Linked DNA regions of Homo sapiens: regions 1 and 2 are each linked to region 3. Evidence: fine-mapped expression QTL. A gene starts in region 3. Each other region holds a variant in brackets. All regions are shown on one strand. Distances are from middle to middle. Region 1 overlaps ARFGAP2 (ARF GTPase activating protein 2). Region 2 overlaps F2 (coagulation factor II, thrombin). Region 3 holds the start of PACSIN3 (protein kinase C and casein kinase substrate in neurons 3).

What was found. PIP is the estimated chance that this variant, and not a neighbour inherited with it, causes the effect.
Region 1: its variant is the best candidate, but not a certain one, in a credible set for the expression of PACSIN3 in tibial artery (GTEx, PIP 0.56).
Region 2: its variant is the best candidate, but not a certain one, in a credible set for the expression of PACSIN3 in fibroblasts (GTEx, PIP 0.58).

The regions. Positions count from the first base shown.
Region 1 is chr11:47,162,683-47,170,008 of GRCh38, reverse strand. It overlaps ARFGAP2 (ARF GTPase activating protein 2), which reads left to right. Exons shown (of 16, transcript NM_032389.6): 11 at 1,758-1,886; 12 at 1,966-2,100; 13 at 3,123-3,249; 14 at 3,410-3,503; 15 at 3,623-3,741; 16 at 4,507-5,708. The coding sequence ends at 4,527. It also overlaps a transcript of CSTPP1 not described here. Among named protein-coding and RNA genes, the nearest start is that of ARFGAP2, 11 kb to the left of the region's middle. The variant C/T (reference allele first, on the strand shown) is at 4,011.
Region 2 is chr11:46,729,580-46,736,905 of GRCh38, reverse strand. All of the region lies in intron 12 of F2 (coagulation factor II, thrombin), which reads right to left. Among named protein-coding and RNA genes, the nearest start is that of F2, 14 kb to the right of the region's middle. The variant C/G (reference allele first, on the strand shown) is at 3,068.
Region 3 is chr11:47,183,075-47,190,400 of GRCh38, reverse strand. It overlaps PACSIN3 (protein kinase C and casein kinase substrate in neurons 3), which reads left to right and starts at 3,967. Exons shown (of 11, transcript NM_016223.5): 1 at 3,967-4,052. RefSeq lists silencers at 3,869-3,968, 4,019-4,338 and an enhancer at 3,311-4,197.

The sequences.
Region 1 (7,326 bases), 20 kb after region 3:
GCATAACATTTTAACTTGAAAGGACATTGGGTCTCCCTCCTTTCCCTGCTTCAGTCACATAGGAATGACTGGGTTAATAGATGACTGGGTTAAGGGATGACCAAGGGGTTAAGGCATATGAACAGTTTTTTAGCAGTGCAACAATTGTTTACTTAAACCCAACTCACCCTATTTATTTATTTGAGACAGAGTTTCAATCTCGTTGCCTAGGCTGGAGTGCAATGGTGTGATCTCAGCTCACCACAACCTCCGCCTCCGGGGTTCAAGCTATTCTCTTGCCTCAGCCTCCACACCTGGCTAATTTTGTATTTTTAGTAGAGACAGGGTTTCTCCGTCTTGGTCAGGCTGGTCTCGAACTCCCGACCTCAGGTGATCCGGCTGCCTCGGCCTCCCAAAGTGCTGGGATTACAGGTGTGAGCCACCATGCCCGGCCCAACTCAGCCCTATTGCAAAATAATCACTCCTTGGGGTTCTTCTAGCTAAAAGCTATAGATATTTTTTAATGAATTGATTTAAATCAAATTAGTCCTTAAAGTGTCCTTGTGGAGCCTGACAGAGGAATGAGAGGCATCAAGAGTTGTATTGTATTGCCTGCCAACCCTAGACCCCTTTTCTTTGAGAAACGAGACAGCAATTCTAGGTCTTAGTGCATAAGGCCAGTCTTTGTGCTTTGAGGTGCTTTTTTTTTTCTCTCTGAGACGGAGCCTCGCTCTGTTGCCCAGACTGGAGTGCAGTGGTGCGATCTCGGCTCACTGCAAGCTCCGCCCCCCAAGTTCACGTCATTCTCCTGCCTCAGCCTCCCAAGTAGCTGGGACTACAGGCACCTGCCACCATGCCCGGCTAATTTTTTTGTATTTTTAGTAGAGACGGGGTTTCACCATGTTAGCCAGGATGGTCTCGATCTCCTGACCTCGTGATCTGCCCGCCTCGGCCTCCCAAAGTGCTGGAATTACAGGTGTGAGCCACGGTGCCTGGCTTTTTTTTTTTTTAATAAAGAGTAGGATGATGAAGAACTCATTCTTTGATGCAGTTATGTTCATTTCCCTGGTGCTGGGGCATTTCTTCATCCATTCCTTTGCTTTGTGAACCCCATCAGTGAAGGATGGGGTTCATAGTGCACAAGGTAGGGAGTTGTTCAGGACAGAGACCACTGGCATCTGGTGCACAATATTAAAATTACAACACGAGCCAGGCACAGTGGCTCACGCCTATAATCCTGGCACTTTTGGAGGCCAAGGCGGGTGGATTGTCTGTACTCAGGAGTTTGAGACCAGGCTGGGCAATGTGGCGAAACCCTGTCTCTACTGAAAAAACACAAAAAATCAGCTGGGTGTGGTGACGTGCACTGTAGTCCCAGCTGCTCGGGAGGCTGAGGCACAAGAATCGCTTGAACCTGGGAGGTGGTGGTTGCAGTGAGCCAAGATTGCACCACTGGACTCCAGCCTGGGCGACAGAGTGAGAATCTGTCTCAAATAAATAAATAAAATTAAATTATAACAGGCAAACCGTCACTGGCCAGGGAACTCCTACGTGGAATAAACAAAGCTGATGTGTAAAGAATTCTGAGGTGTGCTTCACAGGTCACCACACACAGCTAGCCTTCTGTTGGGGTCTGGCCCAGCCCTGTGCTTGGGTAAGGACAGAAGGCTCTGGGTGACGCTCCGTGAAGGAGAACCCAGTTGCTGGGCATTGTCTCTTGTGCGGTGATGCTGATGCCTATCCTTTGGTCTCATGCCTGGCTCTGCTTTGCTGCGCAGCTCTGTCTCCCACTCCGTGCTGTCTGAGATGCAGGTGATTGAGCAGGAAACCCCAGTGAGTGCAAAATCCTCTCGCTCGCAGCTGGACTTGTTTGACGATGTTGGTACTTTCGCCTCTGGACCCCCAAAGTAAGGCTGTTTTCTAGCTGTAAACTTGGCTGCTGTGTTCCTCATCAGGCTTCTCTGAGCCACTCTACTGTCTCCCTAGGTACAAGGACAATCCCTTTTCCTTAGGGGAAAGCTTTGGCTCCCGCTGGGATACAGATGCTGCCTGGGGTATGGACAGGGTAGAGGAGAAGGAGCCAGAAGTGACCATCTCAAGCATCCGGCCTATTTCAGAAAGGTAGAGTGGGCTGTTTTTTCTTTTTTCTTTCTTTTTTTTTTTTAAACAAGCTGAAGGTAGAGAATTCTAAGGCAGCACTGTCTAGAAGAACTTTCTGTGTTGATGGGAATGTTCTCTGTGTTGTTTAATATGGTAGCCACTACTATGTGGCTATGAGCCCTTAAAATGTGGTTGGTGCAACTGAGCAACAATTTCTGATGTAGTTTAATTTCTGATAAACGTAAATAGCCACCAGTGGCTGGTGCCTGCCTCATTAGACAGGGCAGCAGTCAGGCTTCGGTTTGAGTTGTGCTTTGTCATCATAGAGGGCCTGGCAGCTTCTTTTGCTTGGGGTCCATTTCTCTGGCCGGAGGAGCCTGATTGTATGCTTCAGTCCTGACCTCCTTTCAGGGGTTTTATGTCTCCAGCCCCCTTCTTATTTTTTAAAACCCTACTCCATCTTAATCTGGGATCTGTTTAGTTGACATAATATCTGTGAGTTATCCCCGTATAAAATGGGAACGTAACTACTTCATAGGGTCTCCGGAAATACCTGGCCCAGTGTCCACATACTCAGCGTGAGATGAGAGCAACCATCTCCCTTTCCACACCAGGATGCTTTTGAGAGTAAAGGGGGCAGTTTGCTATTCATAGTTATGACAAGAGTAGGTATAAAGCCAGGCAGACCGACACATATGCTCATTGTAGTACTAGGCAAGTTGTCACTAGGATTAGGGTAGCAGCAGTTGTGTGGCCTCCTGAATGCTGACGAAGCTGTGTGCTTTTGGGCAGGAGCCTAGGCCACTGCAGGCTGTATTTCCACCCTGCCTAGTGCAGGTTCCTAAGCTCTCTGGGCCTTGGCCTCAATGTGGAGAAGGGTGACTCCTCACCAGGGGAGAGGGGCCCAGAGCCACAGAGCCACAGACAGAATGGGACCTGGTAACCCATCACCAAAAGGCCACTGGTGCTCTGTTTGGCCTCTGTACTCTGCCTCCCCTGATGATAATGGGAGGAGTCCGAGATATTCCACATCTTCCCCTCAGAGCCACAAACCGGAGGGAAGTGGAGAGCCGGAGCTCAGGCCTCGAGTCTAGTGAGGCGCGTCAGAAATTCGCAGGAGCCAAAGCCATCTCATCTGACATGTTCTTTGGGCGGGAGGTGGATGCAGAGGTAAGTGGGGCTGTCTGCCCTGAGGTCCGAGGCAGCAGGCAGAAGCATGAGCTTTCTCCCTGCCGCTGCTTTGGGCTTTAGCACCAGGAGGGCCTGGCCTGTGTGAGTCCTTGGGTCATCAGCCCCAAGATCCCCAGGCCTGGCCTTTTCCTCACCACAGTATGAGGCCAGGTCTCGGCTGCAGCAGCTCTCAGGCAGCAGTGCCATCAGCTCTTCAGACCTCTTTGGGGACATGGATGGAGCTCACGGAGCAGGTAGGGCCCTGGTGGGGTGGCAGGCACCAAGTGAGGCCTGGGAGCAGGGCGGGAGGGCCCTGCTGTGACTGGGAAGGGCTTCTTGCTGGGCTCTGGGTCACCCTGCTCTTGTTTTACAGGAAGTGTATCTCTGGGGAACGTGCTGCCTACAGCGGACATTGCCCAGTTTAAGCAGGGTGTCAAGTCTGTGGCTGGGAAAATGGCTGTGCTGGCCAATGGTGTGATGAATTCCTTGCAGGTGAGGCTGAAGTGGGGCCTAATGAGGAGTGCTGGGAGGTTTGCCCTTCGCCACCACATAGAGACACTGCTACTGCTCAGCCCCTCTGAGCCTTAAGAGCATTTTCGGCCGGGTGTGGTGGCTCACGCCTGTAATCCCAGCACTGGGAGGCTGAGATGGGTGGATCACTTGAGGTCAGGAGTTTGAGACCAGCCTGACCAACATGGCAAAACCCCGTCTCTACTAAAAATACAAAATTAGCTGGGCATGATGGCGTGCACCTGTAATCC[C/T]GCTACTCGGGATGCTGAGGCAGGAGAATCGCTTGAACCTGGAGGTTGTAGTGAGCTGAGATCATGCCACTGCACTCCAGTCTGGGTGACAGGAGTGAAACTCTTGTCTCAAAAAAAAAACCACAAACGAAAAAGCAAGAGTCTAGAGAGAGGCATTTTCTTGGAGGGCAGCTTCCTTCCTTTCAGCTCCGTGCCAGGGCCGGGCCTCTCCAAGATGCCTCTGTGTCTGCCATGATCTTCCCTGGCCTTGTCACCTGTACCGCTCTTTCTCTTCTCTTCCCAGCTTCTGTGAGGCCAGGCAGGGCTTCCCTGTTGTCGGGTGCCCGAGTGGCCGCTGCCCCAGCTCTCACCGTGGACTCCTGCCTCACCGGGCTGTCCAGCCCCTGCCTCCCCAGTCTTGCTGTGGGGTGCTGGGGCAGGCAGTGTGTTTGCTGGGAAGCTGCTGCAGCTTAGAGCCTCTGACTTTTTTTTTTTTTTTCTCCCCCCTCGCCCCCAGGATCGCTACGGTTCCTACTGATCCGAGCTCTGTGACTCAGGCTTACGATGGTGACGGCAACAAGAACTCCACAGTTCCCAGGCTGGGGATGCTTTGCCTTGTGGAAGCTGGGGAGGATTTGTTACTTCGTATGTGTGGTGTGTGTGTGGGGTGGCCTTTGAGGCGCTCACTCCTGTGAGGGGAATGGTCAGTACCAGCCCTTGTCCTCTGCCTGTGGACTGAGCCCTTTATTCCCTCTCACACCACCCTCCGTGTGTTAGACTCTTGTCCTTCTGTCCTGCCCCCACAGCTGCTGCTCACTTATCCTGCCATACTGGGAAAGGGGGTTCCCCCACGATGGCTTATTCTGGGTCCAGACTTTCCCCAGGTAGGGAAAGCGGAAGGTAGAAGGCTTTTTTTGCTGGCTCTAGGGTTCTTCTAGTTCGAGGCCTTGGGTCCCCATCCTCTGGAACCAGGGGGAGGCCTGGAAGGAGTTCACTGTAGACCCGTCCCATGGGGAAAGAGGCTGCGGACTTGCTGCTGCTGCTGCTGCCAGTGGCCTCTTCTGGGTGCCAGGAGAGGGGAAGGACCTTTGTCTGGGCGTTACCAAGGGCTGGAAACTTTACCTGGTACCTAAAGGTTTCATTTGGGATCAGACCGGAGACCCTTGGGTTCTCCCGTCTCACCACCCCTTTCTACAGTAAGCACTTGGAAGATTGTTTCAGGGTGTCTCAGGGTCCCTCTGTACCATCTGCTGTGGAATGCAGGACCCTCTGTGACATTCTTTATCCCTTCTTCCCCGGGTTGGTGGCCATGGAGGGTCTTGTCTGCTGTGATTCGACTCTGGATGCTGTGAGCTTGATGCTGGCCAGGGAAGCAGAGGATGTGAGAGGCAGAGGCAGGCTCCTGGGGCTGAGCTCCTTCCTCTGCATCATTCTGGGCTTGGCCTGGACAGCACCCGCCAGTGAGAGCTGTGGGCCTCACCCTCTGGCAGCTGAGCCAAGCACTGTCATTCTTGGTGCCATCTTCCCCTGCCGCACCGGCAGTCTCAGCCCAGCCCCCACCTTTGGGTTGTAGGTTGGGCTCCCAAGCAACACAGACCACTCTTCCCCTTGCCCCTCCCCCAGAGGGACTTGACTTTCTTTCTGGACTGTTTGTATTGAAACAAAGTGGTGTCAAAATAAAGCCCCTGCAGGGCCTGGCTCCCTGTTGGTCTGAGTGAAGCAGTGTCCTCTGGATCCTGCCTCCCTGCCCAGTGCCGGCCCCTGGCCTCACTCTCTGGGCTCCCACCGGTAATGGTAGGGCGTCGGTACCGAAGCTGAGGACACTCTCTCCAGGGCCTCCTGCTTCTCTCTTCTCTGAAAGCCAAAGGCCCCTGGCTCCTTGGCTCTGTGCTGCCGTGAGGTCCGGTGCAGCTTCGACCTCACCACCCTGTGGCACGCAGAGGAAAGAGCTGGCATTAGTTGGCCCTTTAACTCGCTGGCTGAGGGCGAGCGAGCAACCTCAGCAGTCCTGCCCCTTGTCACGGCAGTAGGCTTGACTGGGGATGGGTTTCAGTGGAGTTTAAGAAATATTTAACGCCGGGTACAGTGGCTCATGGCTGTCATCCCAGCACTTTGGGAGGCTGAGGCGGGTGGATCACTTGAGGCTAGGAGTTTGAAACCAGCCTGGCCAACATGGTGAGACCCCATTTCTACTAAAAATACAAAATTAGCGGGGTGGGGGCGGTGTGGTGCATGCCTGTAATCCTAGCTACTCAGGAGGCTGAAGCAGAAGTCACTTGAACCCGGGAGGCAGAGGTTGCAGTGAGACTAGATCGCGCCACTGCACCCCAGCTTGGGTGATAAAGTGAGACCCTGTCTCAAAAAAGAAAAAATTACATATATATACATACACACACATACTCTTAGACGTTAATGGGACCCTTTAAATTTAGGGAAGAAAAGGTGTGTGTTTGTGTGTAAATCCTTAGCTTGGCCACCCCTTTCTCTTGGGGGCTTCTGAAACATCTCTGTGCCACCTTAGGAGTCCTCACGGTAGTTACAGACCACTGGTCTGGGAAGTGGATGATTAGAAAGGATGGGCAGAGGGAGCCAGGGGGCTGTAAGCCAGGGATTTGCAGAGTGTAGGTTTGGGACTCATTCAGCTTTGGGATCATCTGGAATTTCTGGACTCCATCCCAAGTTGATAGAGTTAGACTCTCTGGAGCTTGGTAATTTGCATCGTCAGTAGGCTTTCCTGTGATTCTGAGGACACCAGGATTTGAGAACCATGTCTCTTATGGGCTGTGCATCATTGTGGGCCTACAGAGCTCATCACGCAGCCTGAGCTTTTTTTTTTTTTTTTTTTTAAGATGGTCTCATTCTGTCAGTCACTCAGACGGGAGTGCAGTGGCACGATCATGGCTCACTGCAGCCTCAACCTCCTGGGTTCAAGTGATCTACCTCGGGTCTCCCAAGTAGCTGGGACTACAGGTGCAAGCTACCATGCCTGGCTAAGGTTATTTTGTAGAGATAGGGTCCTACTATGTTTCCCAGGGTGGTCCTGAACTCCTGGGCTCAAGCAGTTGGCCCACCTTGGCCTCCCAAAGTGCTGGGATTACAGGCAATGAGCCACTGCATCCTGGAGCAGCTTCGGGGCTGGAATGCCTAGTCTTGGCCTCAGCTCTGCAGGGGTTTGGGAGGCAGTTCCTGTAATGATCCGTTCTGGGTAGGGATGAGCCCAAGGAAATGTGTATGCCTAGTAGTGGTGACATCCACCTTCAGAGGAGGCAGTCCTGTTCTGCTTGGGCTTCTGGGTGGGTTTTGCTTTCTGGGGGACCCCGCCCCTTCAGCCCTCAAT
Region 2 (7,326 bases), 450 kb after region 3:
CATTCTCCCAGTTAATTTGTTGAAGTGTCATAATCCCAATAAAATTACCACCAAGCTTTTTTATAGACCTAGGCATGTTGACACTAAAGTTCATATGGAAAAACAAACATGCAAGAATTGCCAGGAAACCACTGGAAAGAAAAACTAAAAGAGAACATTAGCCTTCCCAGCTATGTACGCTAAAGCCTCTATCATTAAAACAATGTGACGCTGTACACAGACAGACAACAGACCAGGAAAGCCGAGTCGAACATCCAGAAACATACTCATCCTTAAGCATACTCTATCCATAGAAATCTAGAACGTGGGGCTGGGCACCGTGGCTCATGCTGGTAATCCCAACACTTTGGGAGGCCAAGGCAGGAGGATCACTTGAGCCCAGGAGTTCGAGACCAGCCTAGGTAACATAGCAAGACCCCGTCTCTACAAATCAAATCAAATTAGCTGGATGCAGGAAAAAATAAAACTAAAAAATAAAACCTAGGTCAGGTATGGTGGCTCACGTCTGTAATCCCAGCAGTTTGGGAGGCCAAGGCGGGAGACTTGCTCGAGCCCAGCCAGGAGTTTGAAATCAGCCTGGGCAGCACAGGGAGACTTGTCTATATTTCAAATAAATAAATGAAAATAAGATACAATCTAGAATGTGATAAAGGTGAAATCTCAAATCACTAGTTCAAAGATTGATTGATTGATTGATTGATTTTGAGATAGAGTCTCGCTCTGTTGCCAGGCTGGAGTGCAGTGGCACCATCTCGGCTCACTGCAACCTCCTCCTCCCAGGTTCAAGTGATTCCCCTGCCTCAGCCTCCCAAGTAGCTGGGATTACAGGCGCACACCACCATGCCAGGCTAATTTTTTGTATTTTAGTAGAGATGGGGTTTCACCATGTCGGCCAGGCTTGTCTCAAACTCCTGACCTTGTGATCCACCCACCTCGGCCTCCCAAAGTGCTGGGATTACAGGTGTGAGCCACCGCACCTGGCGAAACGGAGTTTTTACTCTTGTTGCCCAGGCTGGAGTGCAATGGAGGGATCTCAGCTCACTGCAACCTCCGTCTCCCAGGTTCAAGCGATTCTCCTGCCTCAGCCTCCCGAGTAGCTGGGATTACAGACATGTGCCTCCATGTCTGGCTAATTTTGTATTTTTAGCAGAGACAGGGTTTTTCCATGTTGGTCAGGCTGGTCTTGAACTCCTGACCTCAGGTGATCCGCTCGCCTCGGCCTCCCAAAGTGCTAGGATTACAGGCGTGAGCCACCGCGCCCAGCCGATTTTTTTTTTTTAATAGAAACAGGGTCTCACTCTGTTGCCCAGGCTGGAGTGCAATGGTGCGGTCATAGCTCACTGCAGTATTGAACTCCTAGGCTCAAGCAATCCTCCTAACTCAGCCTCTCAAGTAGCTGAGACTACAAGGCACATGCCACCATGCCCAGCTAATTTTTAAAATATTTTCTTTTTCCTTTTTTTTTTGAGATGGAGTCTTGCTCTGTCGCCAGGCTGGAGTTCAATGGCGTGATCTCAGCTCACTGCAACCTCCACCTCCTGGGTTCAAATGATTCCCCTGCCTCAGCCTCCTGAGTAGCTGGTACTACAGGCATGCGCCACCACACCCAGCTAATTTTTTGTATTTTAGTAGAGACGAGGGTTTCACCATGTTGGCCAGGATGGTCTCTATCTCCTGACCTCATGATCCACCTGCCTCAGCCTCCCAAAGTGCTGGGATTATAGGCGTGAGCCACCACACCTGACCAATATTTTCTTGTAGAGACAGGGTCTTGCTATGTTGTCTGGGCTGGTTTTGAATTCCTGGCCTCAAGCAATCCTGCCTCAGCCTTCCAAACTGCTGGGATTACAGGTGTGAGCTACCGCACTTGGCCAATAATTTTTAATAAAGGGTTTAGAGACAGCTAGTTAGCCATTTGGAAAATAATAAATTAGATCTATGCCTCACATCAGATACAAAAATAAACTCCATATGAGTCAGGAATCTAAGTGCAGAAAAATGAAATCAGGTACTAGAAGAAAACATGAGTGAATTCCTCAATGACCTAGCTATCAGGAAAGGCTTTTCTGTTGTTGTTTTTTGTCGTTTTGTTTTTGAGACAGAGTCTTGCTCTGTCACCCAGGCTGGAGTGCAGCGGCACGATCTCTGCTCACTGCAACCTCCGCCTCCCAGGTTCAAGCAATTCTCCAGCCTCAGTCTCCTGAGTAGCTGGGACTACAGGCATCAGCCACCACGCCCAGCTAATTTTTGTATTTTTAGTAGAGACAGGGTTTCACCATGTTGGCCAGGCTGGTCTTGAACTTCTGACCTCAGGTGATCCCCCACCTCAGCCTCTCAGAGTGCTGGGATTACAGGTGTAAGACACCACACCTGGCCAGGAAAAGTTTATCTCTGATTCAAAATCCAGATTTAATAAAATAAATGATTGATAAATTTGACTACCTAGTAATTTTTTAAACTGCATGGCCAGAAAAATTATACATGAGGTTAAAAAAACTGACAAACTAGGAGAAAACATTTGCAATGTATATCACAAATAAAGGCCTAATATAAATACGAAGAACTCACAAAAATTGATAAGAAAGGGACCAAAAAATGGGCAAAAAACCATGAAGAGACAATTCACAAAAAAATTATATAATACAAATACTAGCCAGGCACGCACCTGTGGAACCAGCTACTCGGGAGGCTGAGGCAGGAGAATCACTTGAACCAGGGAAGTGGAGGCTGCAGTGAGCCAAGATTGCACCATTGCACTCCAGCCTGGGTGACAAAGCAAGACTCTGTCTCAAAAAAAAAATTATATAAAAATGGTCCTTAGGCCAGGCGTGGTGGCTCATGCCTGTAATCTCAGCACTTTGGGAGGCCGAGGCGGGAGGATCACAAGGTAAGGAGTTCGAGACCAGCCTGGCCAATCTGGTAAAACCCTGTCTCTACTAAAAATACAAAAATTAGCGGGCATGGTGACTCGCGCCTGGAGTCCCAGCTGCTTGGGAGGCTGAAGCAGGAGAATCGCTTGAACCCAGAAGGCGGAAGTTGCAGTGAGCCAAAATCGTGCCATTGCACT[C/G]CAGCCTAGGTGACAGAGGGAGACTCCATCTCAAAAAAAAAAAAAAAAAAAAAAAAGGTCCTTAATCATATGATACGATGTTCAACCTCATTTTCAATTTGAAAGATGTCCGTTAAAACAATTTCAAGATACTATTTCTCACCTCTCAGATTGGTAAAAATTTAAAACTGTGACATTCTTTTGGCAAGGTTGTGGGGAAACAGGCATTCTCATACACTGTGATGGAAATGCAAACTGGTACAACCCTTATGGAAAGAAATTTAAAAATCTCTAAAAAATGACATACATGTTTGCCTTTTGACCTAACAACACCACTTCTAAAAATTTACTAGGAGAGGCCAGGCATGGTGGCTCACACCTGTAATCCTAGCACTTTGGGAGGCTGAGTTGGATGGATCACTTGAGCTCAGAGTTCAAGACCTGTCTGGGCAACACAGTGAGACCCAGTCTCTACAAAAAATACAAAAATTAGCTGGGCATGGTGGTGTGTGCCTGTAGCCCTGGCTACTCGGGAGGCTAAAGTGGGAGGCTGGCTTGAGTCCAGGAGGCAGAGGTTGCAGTGGGCTGAGCCCAGCCATAGGATTGGTTTTAATAGTGTTATGGATGGAGGATTTTGAAACTATATTCTAGTATTGTTCAAATAGGCAAATGCATTACAGATAATGAGGGTCAGGTTTCTCACTGTCAACAGAGAGAGTTACAAATATGGAAAAGGAAAAGCTAAAATTAATCCTGTGGTGTTAGAATGGAATTGGAGGTTTCAGTAGGAACTCATGGTTTTTTATATAGATGATAGAGATATTGGTATATGCATCATATAATTTTTTTCTGGTTCTGTCCACTAAGAGAGCCTAGAAGTAATGACATCCCACTAGCAATGTGCACACGCCAGCACCCAGATCTCAGTTCTAAATTCCACTCTTGACTACAAGGGTTCCCTGGAGAAATGGCTGGTTCCAACACTACAGTAAGGAAAGTAGGATTAACCTGAATCATTTTGCTGTGCCAGAAAGAAAGAAAGTACTCAAAGAATGACAGAACATCTCCCCAAGTCACAGAAGCCAGCTTGAAGGGACTTCCACAGGCCAAACTTGGGATCATCTGAGCATCAGAAAAAATAACAGTAGTAACAAAGTATGGCCTGGCACGGTAGAGCTCACGCCTATAATCCCAGAACCTTGGAAGGCTGAGGCGGGCGGATCACCTGAGGTCAGGAGTTCGAGACCAGCCTGGCCAACATGGTGAAACCCTGTCTCTACTAAAAATACAAAAAATTAGCCAGGCGTGGTGGCACATGCCTGTAATCCCAGCTACTCAGGAGGCTGAGGCAGGAGAATTGCTTGAACCTGGGAGGAGGACGTTGCAGTGAGCCGAGATCACGCCATTGCACTCCATCCAGCCTGGGCAACATGGGCGAAACTCCATCTCAAAAAAAAAGAAAAAAAAAGGTGAACCCTTAGAATAAAGTAAGGATCCTTAAGTCCACACTGATAGAATGAAAGGAAGGAAAGCAATAAAGTAACTAACAAATGTAGAAGGAATGACAGAATTAGATAAGTGCCATTTGGTAGTCACCCTAGTTGGGAGAAGGTTTTGATGCAAACAGAATACAAAATATCAAAGTAGGCCAGGCGTATTGGCTCACACCTGTAATCCCAGCACTTTGGGAGGCTGAGGCAGACGGATCACAAGGTCAGGAGTTCGAGACCATCCTGGCCAACATGGTGAAACCCCATCTCTACTAAAAATACAAAAATTAGCTGGGTGTGGTGGCACATGCCTGTAATCCCTGCTACTTGGGAGGCTGAGGCAGGAGAATCACTTGAACCTGGGGGATGGAGGTTGCAGTGAGCCGAGATCGCACCACACACTCCAGCCCGGGTGATAGAGGGAGACTCCATCACAAAAAAAAAAAAAAAAAAAAAACATCAAAGTGTCTCTTTACCAGATTCTTATTAATTACAAAGGGAAAAACAGAAGTTACAGCAAGAAACTTGGCAGACATTGCCTTCCTCAAGAGGTCAGAGTTAGACTCACCACATATGAGACAAATTGTTCTCATGTGCCAGTTAACAGGATGCACCAAGAAGGACATGGCACCACTGAGCCCGAACCTGACCGTGAGGAAACCTTAGACAAACCCGGATTCAGGGCCAGTGTACAAAATAACCAGACTGCACTCATCAGACATGTCAAGGTCATAGAAGACAAAGAAAGATCCTTCATTGAATCCTGGGTGAGAAACACGCTTTTTTTTTTTTTTTTCCCTATAAAAGACATTAGCAAGACTAACAAAAATTTGAATAAGGTCTATAGATTAGACAATAATATTGTATCATCATTAATTTCCTGGTTTTGGGCCAGGTGCTGTGGCTCACGCCTGTAATCCCAGCACTTTGGGAAGCCGAGGTGGGTGGATTACCCGAGGTCAGGAGTTCAAGACCAGCCTGGCCAACATGGTGAAACCCCATCACTACTAAAAATACTAAAAATACAAAAAGTTAGCCGGGCGTGGTGGCAGGCACCTGTAATTCCAAGTAAGCCGAGACCATGCCACTGCACTCTAGCCTGGGCAACAGAGCAAGATTCCATCTCAAAAAAAAAAAAAAATTTCCTGGTTTTGGCCGAGTACAGTGGTTCACGCCTGTAATCCCAGCACTTTGGGAGGCCGAGGCAGGTGGATCACCTGAGGTCAGGAGTTCAAGACCAGCCTGGCCAACATGGTGAAACCCTGTCTCTACTACAAATACAAAAATTAGCTAGGCATGGTAGTACATGCCTGTGATTCCAGCTACTCAGGAGGCTGAGGCAGGAGAATCACTTGAACCTGGGAGCAGGAGGTTGCAGTGAGCCGAGATTGTGCCACTGCACTCAAGCCTGGGTGACAGCGAAGCTATGTCAAAAAAAAATTTCCGGGTTTTAATATTTGTATTGTGGTTGCATAAGAGAACATCCTTGGGTATTTTTTTTTTTTTTGGAAATACTCAAGTATTTATGGGTAAAAAGAAACCATATTCATGATTTGCTCTCAAACTATGCATATATATATATAAAAATTCCCACACATCCACAGAATGGAGGACAATCTGGATGACAGTATACAGGAAATCTTTGTATTATTTTTACAACTTTTCTGTGAGTCTGAAATTACACTAAATTTTTTTATTTTTTACTTTTAAAGTCAGTCACATCATTTCTTAACCTGCCTCAAGCCCCTCAATAACTTCCCATCTCACTCAATAAAGTCCTTCCAGGCCCTAAAGGAAGTGGCTGTCCTCTGCCTGCCCCCCTCTCTCCCCTCACCCACTGCTGCCCCTCCTCAGCCCCCCAGGCCTCCCTACTGCTCCCCAGACAAGCCAAGAGTGCTCCCACCTCAGGGCCTTAGTGCCTGCCATGCCCCCAGCCTGCGGTGCTCCTCCCCTAGATATGCCTGCTCACTCCTTCCTTCCCCTCTTCCAGTCCCTGCCCAGACATCACCTTCTCAGGGAGGCCTTCTCCAACCTTCTCTGGCCACCTGATTGATTGATTGATCGATCGATCAATGGAGTCTTGCTGTGTTGCCCAGCTGGAGTGCAATGATGCCCGATCTCAGCTCACTGCAACCTCCGCCTCCCTGGCTCAAGCAATTCTCCTGCCTCAGCCTCCTGAGTAGCTGCGACTACAGGCATGCGTCACCATGACCAGCTAATTTTTGTATTTTTAGTAGAGACGGGGTTTCACCATGTTGGCCAGGCTGGTCTTGAACTCCTGACCTCAAGTGATCTGCCCACCTTGTCTGGCCACCCTATTTAGAAGCCCACTTCATCAGCCGTTCTCTCTCCCTGTGCTTCATTTTTCTTCACAGCACTGGTCAGGGATTGCTGTTTTAGATCTGTTTATGGATGTGCCCTCCTAGGAAGGAAGCTCTCTGAGGGCACAGACATTGTCCGTCTGGGTCCCTGCTGTATACCCTAGAACGCTGCCTGGAACGTGATAGGCGCTCAATAAATATTTGCTGAGTGACTGAATGAATGGCATTTCCCTACCCGCAGCCTCTTGCTGCTATCTGAGCTCACTGGTGACTGATACTATGCCAAGTACATTAATATATACTACTTCATTTAACCCTCCCATAACCTTATGGGATAGAGACTTTTACCTCCATTTTACAGAGGAAGAAACTGAGCCACCAAGAGGTTAGGCAACTTGCTCAAAGTCACATGGCTTGAACCCAGGCACAACTCAGTTCTCCCAGCTTGGGCCCCACTGTTCCCTCAGCC
Region 3 (7,326 bases):
CCAAGGCGGGTGGATCATGAGGTCAGGAGTTTGAGCCCAGCCTGACCAACATGGTGAAACCCCGTCTCTACTAAAAATACAAAAATTAGCCAGGCGTGGTGGCACGTGCCTGTAATCCCAGCTACTCAGGAGGCTGAGGCAGGAGAATCGCTTGAACCCGGGAGGTGGAGGTTGCAGTGAGCTGAGATTGCGCCATTACACTCCAGCCTGGGCGACAGAGCAAGACGCCGTCTCGAAAAAAAAAAAAAAAGAATATGTCTCTCTCTACCTTGTTCTTTTTTTTTTTTTTTTTTTTTTTTTGGTTTGTTTTTGTTTGAGATGGAGTTTTGCTCTCGCTTCCCAGGCTGGAGTGCAATGGCGCAATCTCAGCTCACTGCAACCTCCGCCTCCTGGGTTCAAGCGATTCTCCTGTCTCAGCTTCCCAAGTAGCTGGGACTAAAGGCACACGCCACCACACCTGGCTAATTTTTGTATTTTTAGTAGAGAAGGGGTTTCACTTTGTTGGCCAGGCTGGTCTCGAACTCCTGCCTCTAGCTTGTTCTTGAGTTTTTGCAGAGTAATCCACAGCATGAATGAACTTTAGGTTGTTCAACTATTGCCTTCATGATGAACATTTGTTTTCAGTTCTCCCCTGTTGCAAACAGTACTATATGCAAACATCATTGTACCTCTTTCTGCATTTGTACATGTTCGTCCAGGGTAAATACCAAAAAGTAGAATTGCTAGGTCACAAAGTCATATGGTAACACCCCTGGGGCTTGGCACACCCTGAAGCTCCTGCCTAGAATGCCTGTCCACGTGACTAATTCCTACTCATCAAGACCTATCAGTGTCATGTCCTGTGAAAGGCCGTCCCTTCTGCCTGTTTTCTCTCAATACTTCCTATCTGCCTTGCATCATTACGGTACACTTGGACTCTGCCTTATTTAACTTTGTACTCCCAACATTCCTAGCATAGCCTTAGCATGGAGTAAAAACTCAAGTGTTTTCTTGGCTGGGTGAATGAATGCATAAATAAACAAATGAAGGCACAGTGGTTAGGATATTCCAGAAACTCAAGGTGAGTCTGTGAGTGGCGTGAAATCTGGCTATGGACCAATCTGCCCATTGGTACCCTGAGCCAAATGCCTTGCTAGATTTGTCTTTTTTTCTTTTTGAGAGAAAGTTTCCTTCGACCAGGCTGGAGAGCAGTGGCGCAATCTCAGCTACCTAAGCCTCCCGGGTTCAAGCAATTCTCCTGTCTCAGCCTCCCAAGTAGCTGGGACTACAGGCGTCCACGACCACGCCTGCTAGTTTTTTTGTGTTTTTAGTAGAGATGGGGTTTCATTATTGGCCAGGCTGGTCTTGAACTCCTGACCTCAGGTGATCCACCTGCCTCAGCCTCACAAAGTGCTGGCATTACAGGCGTGAGCCACTGTGCCCAGCCTTAGATTTCTGTCATTTTTTTTCTTTTTCTTTTTGAGATGGAGTTTTGTTCTTGTCGCCCAGGCTGGAGTGCAATGGCACGATCTCAGCTCACTGCAACCTCCACCTCCCAGGTTCAAGCGATTCTCCTGCCTCAGCCTCCTAAGTAGCTGGGATTACAGGCACCCGCCACCATGCCCAGCTAATTTTTGTATTTTTAGTAGAGATGGGGTTTCACCATGTTGGCCAGGCTGGTCTCAAACTCCTGACCTCAGATGATCCACCCGCCTCGGCCTCCCAAAATGCTGGGATTACAGGCGTGGGCCACCGCGCCCGACCAGATTTCTGTCTTTATGCAGCCCTCTGTCCACTGACATCTCATCTTGAACTCTGGGTTGAGGACAGCACTGATGGAGCAGTGTGGATGTTAAGGGCTCTGGCCATAGAGCGCAGAATGGGAGCCCTGGGGGTAGCATTAGCTTGGAGCTGGCTTTCCAAAGGCATGTCTGTCTACTTTCAGCTTAGAAGCAGCCCCCTATGCTCTGGGTTTTATTTTGTTGTTTTTTTTCCCCTACAGTACCTCAGGGGCAATTAAGATCAGCTGCAACATTTCTGCTTTCTGCTCCCAGACTTGAGCCCAAGGGAAGCCAGATGTTTTCCAGTCCACATCCCCTTCTCTTTGTGGTCTGATGAACAGCCCTGTTTTCTGAGTCTCTCTATGGCCTGGCTTTCCCAGATCCCACAGCCTGGCTGCCAACTTTATTTTTAATGAGGTTTTAATAGGTGGCTCCTGTAATTAATTTCATTCTTGTGTTTTCACACTTCGGTCTAGGTGCCTAAAGGCCTTCAGGCGCTAGGAGGGATGTTAACTGATTTTAAAGAATACAAAACCCTGTGGCTGTGATTTGCCATTTTCCCAGCTCCTCTGATCTGCAGTTGTTTTTTACAATCATTAATTAGCTGGGGCTCATGGCTCAGCGGAAGGTCAGCTGGTCACCTGTCATGTTTTATAGAGGTAGAAATAGAGATAAGGGACTTGTCCAAGCCCTAAGAGAGAGTGGGTGTTGAAATTGGTCTCAGAAACCACATCCCAGGTTTCAGATTCACTACTCAGCTATGATTTGCCAAACACGGCCAGAATCCTCAGGCCAAAGGTGGCGCGCCTTGGGTGCCCCACAGGTGTCTTGGGGAGGCAGTTTTACCCTTCCATTAGCACTGCCCAGCAAGTGAGCCCTCGGCAGGCAAAATTACCCCCATTCATTTTCTCCAGGTCCCTTTCCCGTTTTGTGAGCGGATTCATCTGCGTAAAGAACGCGTCAGTGATTCCTCCTGGATTTAGAAACAACATAATTTTGCTATTTTTAAAGCTGCCGTTTAAAACTCCGCGCGCACGCACTCACACTCTTCAGGGAGCTGAGGGTGGGAGGAAAAGTACGAGCTTCAGAGGGCGCAGCCAGGCGCCTCAGCTTCCCAGGGCTCAGAGCCGCGTCCCTGGGGGCGCACTCCTCTGAGAGCGCCGGGGCTCTCCGACCCGCTGCGATTCTGCGCGCCCGGGACCTTCTGCGTCCGGGACCTTCTGCGCCCGGGCGTTCGACCCCGTTGGTCCGCGCTCCCCCTGGTCTTCAAGGCTCAGGGCACCGCCGCTGGGTCACCGGGCCCAGGAGAGAGTGGGAGGGGCGGAGAGGCCGAGCAGGTGGCGATTAGGTCAGCTTCGGAACATTCTTGGACCGCTCCAGTGGATATAAATAACAGACGGAGCCGCTCTGCAAAATCTCACCCCCGGGGGAAAGCGGGGAGAGGGAAGTAGGGAGAGAGGAGGGAGAAGGGATTTATTTAGCGTGGGGTGGCATCGTGGCGATATGGAAAAATGTACCAGACTGATAAAGGGGGTGGAGGGGCGAAGGGTAAGAATGAATCGTGGTACAAAATCTGGAAATAAGAACTCGGAGCGGGAGGAGCTTAGGCCTTTTTGTCCCACCCCCACCGCGTGTTCGTCTCAGGCCTTAGAAGGCGCCCCAGATTAGCAGGGCAGCTGTGGAACGGTAGGGCACGGTTTTGGAGTCCCAGCCCTGCCTGACTAGAGGGAAATCTTGGGCAAGCCTCTGAAAAGCCCCCGAGCCTCAGTTTTTGCATCTGTACAGTGGGAATCCTAATGCTTACAAGGGGTGGTTGTGAGCCTCGCCTGAGCCAATTTCTAAACAAGCTGTGCAGCTAAAAATGTAAGGCAGTGTAATTCCCCCGGCCCCTCTCCAAGGCTGCCCGTGCCGGCCCGGTCCCTTCTTGCTCCCTCGGGTCTCCCAGGCTCTGCAACGGTCCGGGAGAGGCAAAGCCGAAATCTGGCTCCCTGCGGCACCGGGGCGCAACCCTGGGGAGCCCGCCCAGGCACTCCGCACACGGGCGAAGCAGAGAAACCTCGACCCGCGCCACAAGAGCCGCTGGTCGCCGCGATGCCTGCAGCCCCGCTGCCCCGCCGCGTGGGGTTGAGGCAGCGGCGGCCAGGAGAGGGGCGGGGCCGGGGGCCGGGGGCCGGGCTTCCCGGGGGAGGGCCCGGCGCGCTCCGGGAGGCCGCGGCGCGGGCCCAGGAGCGGCAGGACTCGGGCCGGAGCGTGGCCGGACCCCCACCCGCCGAGGGGCCCAGGGAGGACGCGGTGAGTGCCCTGGAGGGGACGCGCGGGTAGGCGGCGGCGGGTGCGGTGGCTCGAGCCCGCCCTCTCCTGCTCCGGCTTCTGAAGTTTGCAATGGAGCCGACTCCCGCCCAGGGAGCCCCCGGCCACCCCGCTCTGCGTGCCGACGGGAAGGGCCGTAGCCGCGCCGAGGGGCCGTCCCATCTGCGGTGCCGCGGGCTTCGCAATTCCGCAGGCCGCCCGGGGGAGGCGGCGCCGGCGCTGGAGGGCTGAGCCGTCTTCAGGGGCCCCTCGAGGGCCCCCGTCCGCTCGCCTCGCGCCCGCCCCGAGGCCCCAGAGGGTCCTCGCTCCCTGGCGATCCCTCGCCCTATGCAGCGAGCCCCGATTCCTGGGTCCGCTGCCCGGGGCCACCATCTGGAGCCCACGGCAAGGCCGGCCCAGGCAGGGGGCGTCCCCTCCCCTTGGCGGTGATCAGTGGCCCCACCCCCGCCAAGACCAAGTTCAACAAGTTTGGCCAAGAAGTCTAGAGCTTCGGTGGCTAGGCCTGGCCCTGCCGCTCCGCGTGGCTCCACGGGCTCCGAGTTATGCAGCTCCGGGCGGCAAGGGGTCCTGTCGAGGGGCGCGGTCCATAAGGGTTGAGGCCAGAGGCGCGTAGCCTCTGGGCGCCGAGCTCTGGAGTGGAGGCTGGGGTTCGGAGTGCGTCATCTGGAAGCAGGCACCCCGGCCGGCAGGTCGGGTTTCCAAAAGTGCCCCTTTGTTATGCCCCTCCCTGGCCCTGCCTCCTCCCGCTTTGGCTGCGCCACCCCCTCCCCCAGCCTCCTGATCTCCTGGCTGGCTCTGGCTTCTGGTTCCAGCCCCTCTAACCTCGCTGTCCCTCTTCGGACCAGCCTACTGACGCCCCCTCCCCTCCCCCCCGCTCTGTCCTCAAATCCTAGAGCTGCGGGCGCACCGGGAGGGGCTGCCCGGGAAAGAAGCCCTTGGGCGCAGCCTGTGACTCAGGTTCCAGGGATGGGCCAGGCAGAATGGCTGAGCTCCCTCCCAGGGGCAAGCCCCCAGCTTCTGGAAGAGGTTGGGGCTGGTCTGGGGCCGGGTACCTTCAGGCCTCAGGTAGGGAGACTGGGTCTTCCCTGAACCAGGGACTTCCTACCTTGGCCCGTGCAGCTGCAAGGAGACCCTGCCAAGCCCAGGAAGACCTCTCGGAGCCGAACGTGCTGGCTCCCGGGGCTGGGAAGATTGCATTACCTGCTTTCTGAGCTCTTGCCTGCGGTGGGGACTGATTTGGGTCTCTGCTGAGCTCAGGAGGCACAGGGTGCCAACCTGCTCAATGGGGGCCAAGGTGCAAGCCCTCCTTGCTTGCTTGCTGAGAGGTCAGGCTGGGGCTGTGGGGCCTGGCTGCACCCGGGGCTTGGGCCTGTGTTTGCTCTGGGAGGCCGGAGGGAGCTGTGCCAGCCCGGTACACACAGCTTGCTCTGTTCTGGGGCCAGAGAGAGGGAAGGGGTGGGGGGCAGCTCTCTGGGGAGCAGGGAACTCGGAGGCTGGAACAGGCAAGGGGCCCCAGGCTCCTGAGGCTGGACTGGGGCGGCTCCAGAGCCCTGTGATTCATGGCAGCAGCTCTCTTTCTCTCCATCGCCCTGTCAGGTCCTTTCTGGGCAGACAGGACACACTGCAGAGGGAACCAAGTGACGAGCTTGTGAGGCCCCTGGTGGGCACCTCCATTGCCTGGGTCTCCGCGGAGCCCCTAGCTCTGTCTCCTGTTAGCAGAGGGGGAAGCCCACTTGGACCAAGCATTCCCACAGCTGCTGGAGCGGGCGCGTTTCCTGCGCTCCAGGTGGACATCGCTTCTTTTCTCACTTAACTAATTATTGCTGATTCCAGCGCGTGGGGACACACAAATCAGAATCCTGGAAGCCTCTGTCGGTGACTGAAGATAGACACTGTCCTGTCAGCCACAACTCCATGGGTTATACACCCCGGCTGAAGGGTCACCCGGGGCTACAGGAGCAAGGACAGAGAAACAGGGGAAGTGACTGAGGAGAAGATGCCTTAATTGGAGGTTTGAAGGAGAAGCAGAGGTGCATGAGTTTGGAGGAAGCGCTGTGACAGCGCCCTGCTTTGGGGACAAAGGGCGCACACTGTCCTCCTGGGTCTGGCTGTGTCCCTTGGGCCTGCTCAGAGAGGAAGCGATTTCCTTCTAGGGTCTGTGAGTCAGTCAGTGCTGGGGACAGCTGAGACCCTGCCCAGAGGCAGGAGGGGAGCAGCCACATGCCACTGTGTCCTTGAGTCCCTGGGGCCATGGCTCTGGGGTTGGAATTGGCTTGCCGTCCTCTGCGATTCTAGGGAACTTTTTTTTTTTTTTTTGAGACAGTCTCACTCTGTTGCCCAGGCGGTGGTATAATCTCTGCTCACCGCAACCTCCTCCGCCTCCTAGGTTCAAGTGATTCTCATGCCTCAGCCTCCTAAGTAGCTGGGACTACAGGTTCCCGCCACCACGCCTGGCTAATTTTTATATTTTTAGTAGAGACGAGGTTCCTCCATGTTGGCCAAGCTGGTCTGGAACTCCTGACCTCAGGTGATCCACCCACCTCAGTCTCCCAAAGTGCTGAGATTACAGGCGTGAGCCACCACACCCAGCCTGGGAGACATTCTTATAGTTGGCCATCGCTTCTCACTTCCCCATGCTGCCCTGGACGCCAGGCCTTTGGAGGGCAGGCCCGGGTTGTGTGTTCCCCACGGAGCCTTGCGGGCCCTCAGTGGATGTGTGGAGTGAGATGAGTATCTTCCGTGACTGCAGGGCCCCTCGTATTTCTGGTGCGTTGCTTGGTTTGAGTTTCACACCAGCCCTGGCATGGCAGCTGAGCACACAGAGGAGTTCCATCTTAGAGGGAGCTGGGGCCTCCTTAGGAGGAGACAGTTACATACACTTGTTCGGGCTTCCTGGCCAACACAGAAGCCAGGCCTCTTGGTTCCCTTCGTGCCCTCCTCAGTACAGGGAGCTACTGGGATGTGGCCAGGCACCCTCTGACTTGGCCTCTCGGGTAACAGGGTTGTCTTGTCACTCAAGGGAAGGCAACAGAGGCCCTAGCCTGGGCAGGAGTCCTCTCATCGGCAGTTGGGGGAGTGGGGCCTTCTGCCCACCGCCCACCCCCGCCTGCCATTTAATCCCTGGCTGGATCGTGTGACCTGCCTGGCATTCTCCTCCCTGGAATCCGGCGCTTCTGACAGCAGTTGCTATATTGGGGGTGCCGGGCACCGCCCTGGACGCTCTAGGCCCCCACCCTCACCCCCGCTCTGTTCTCCT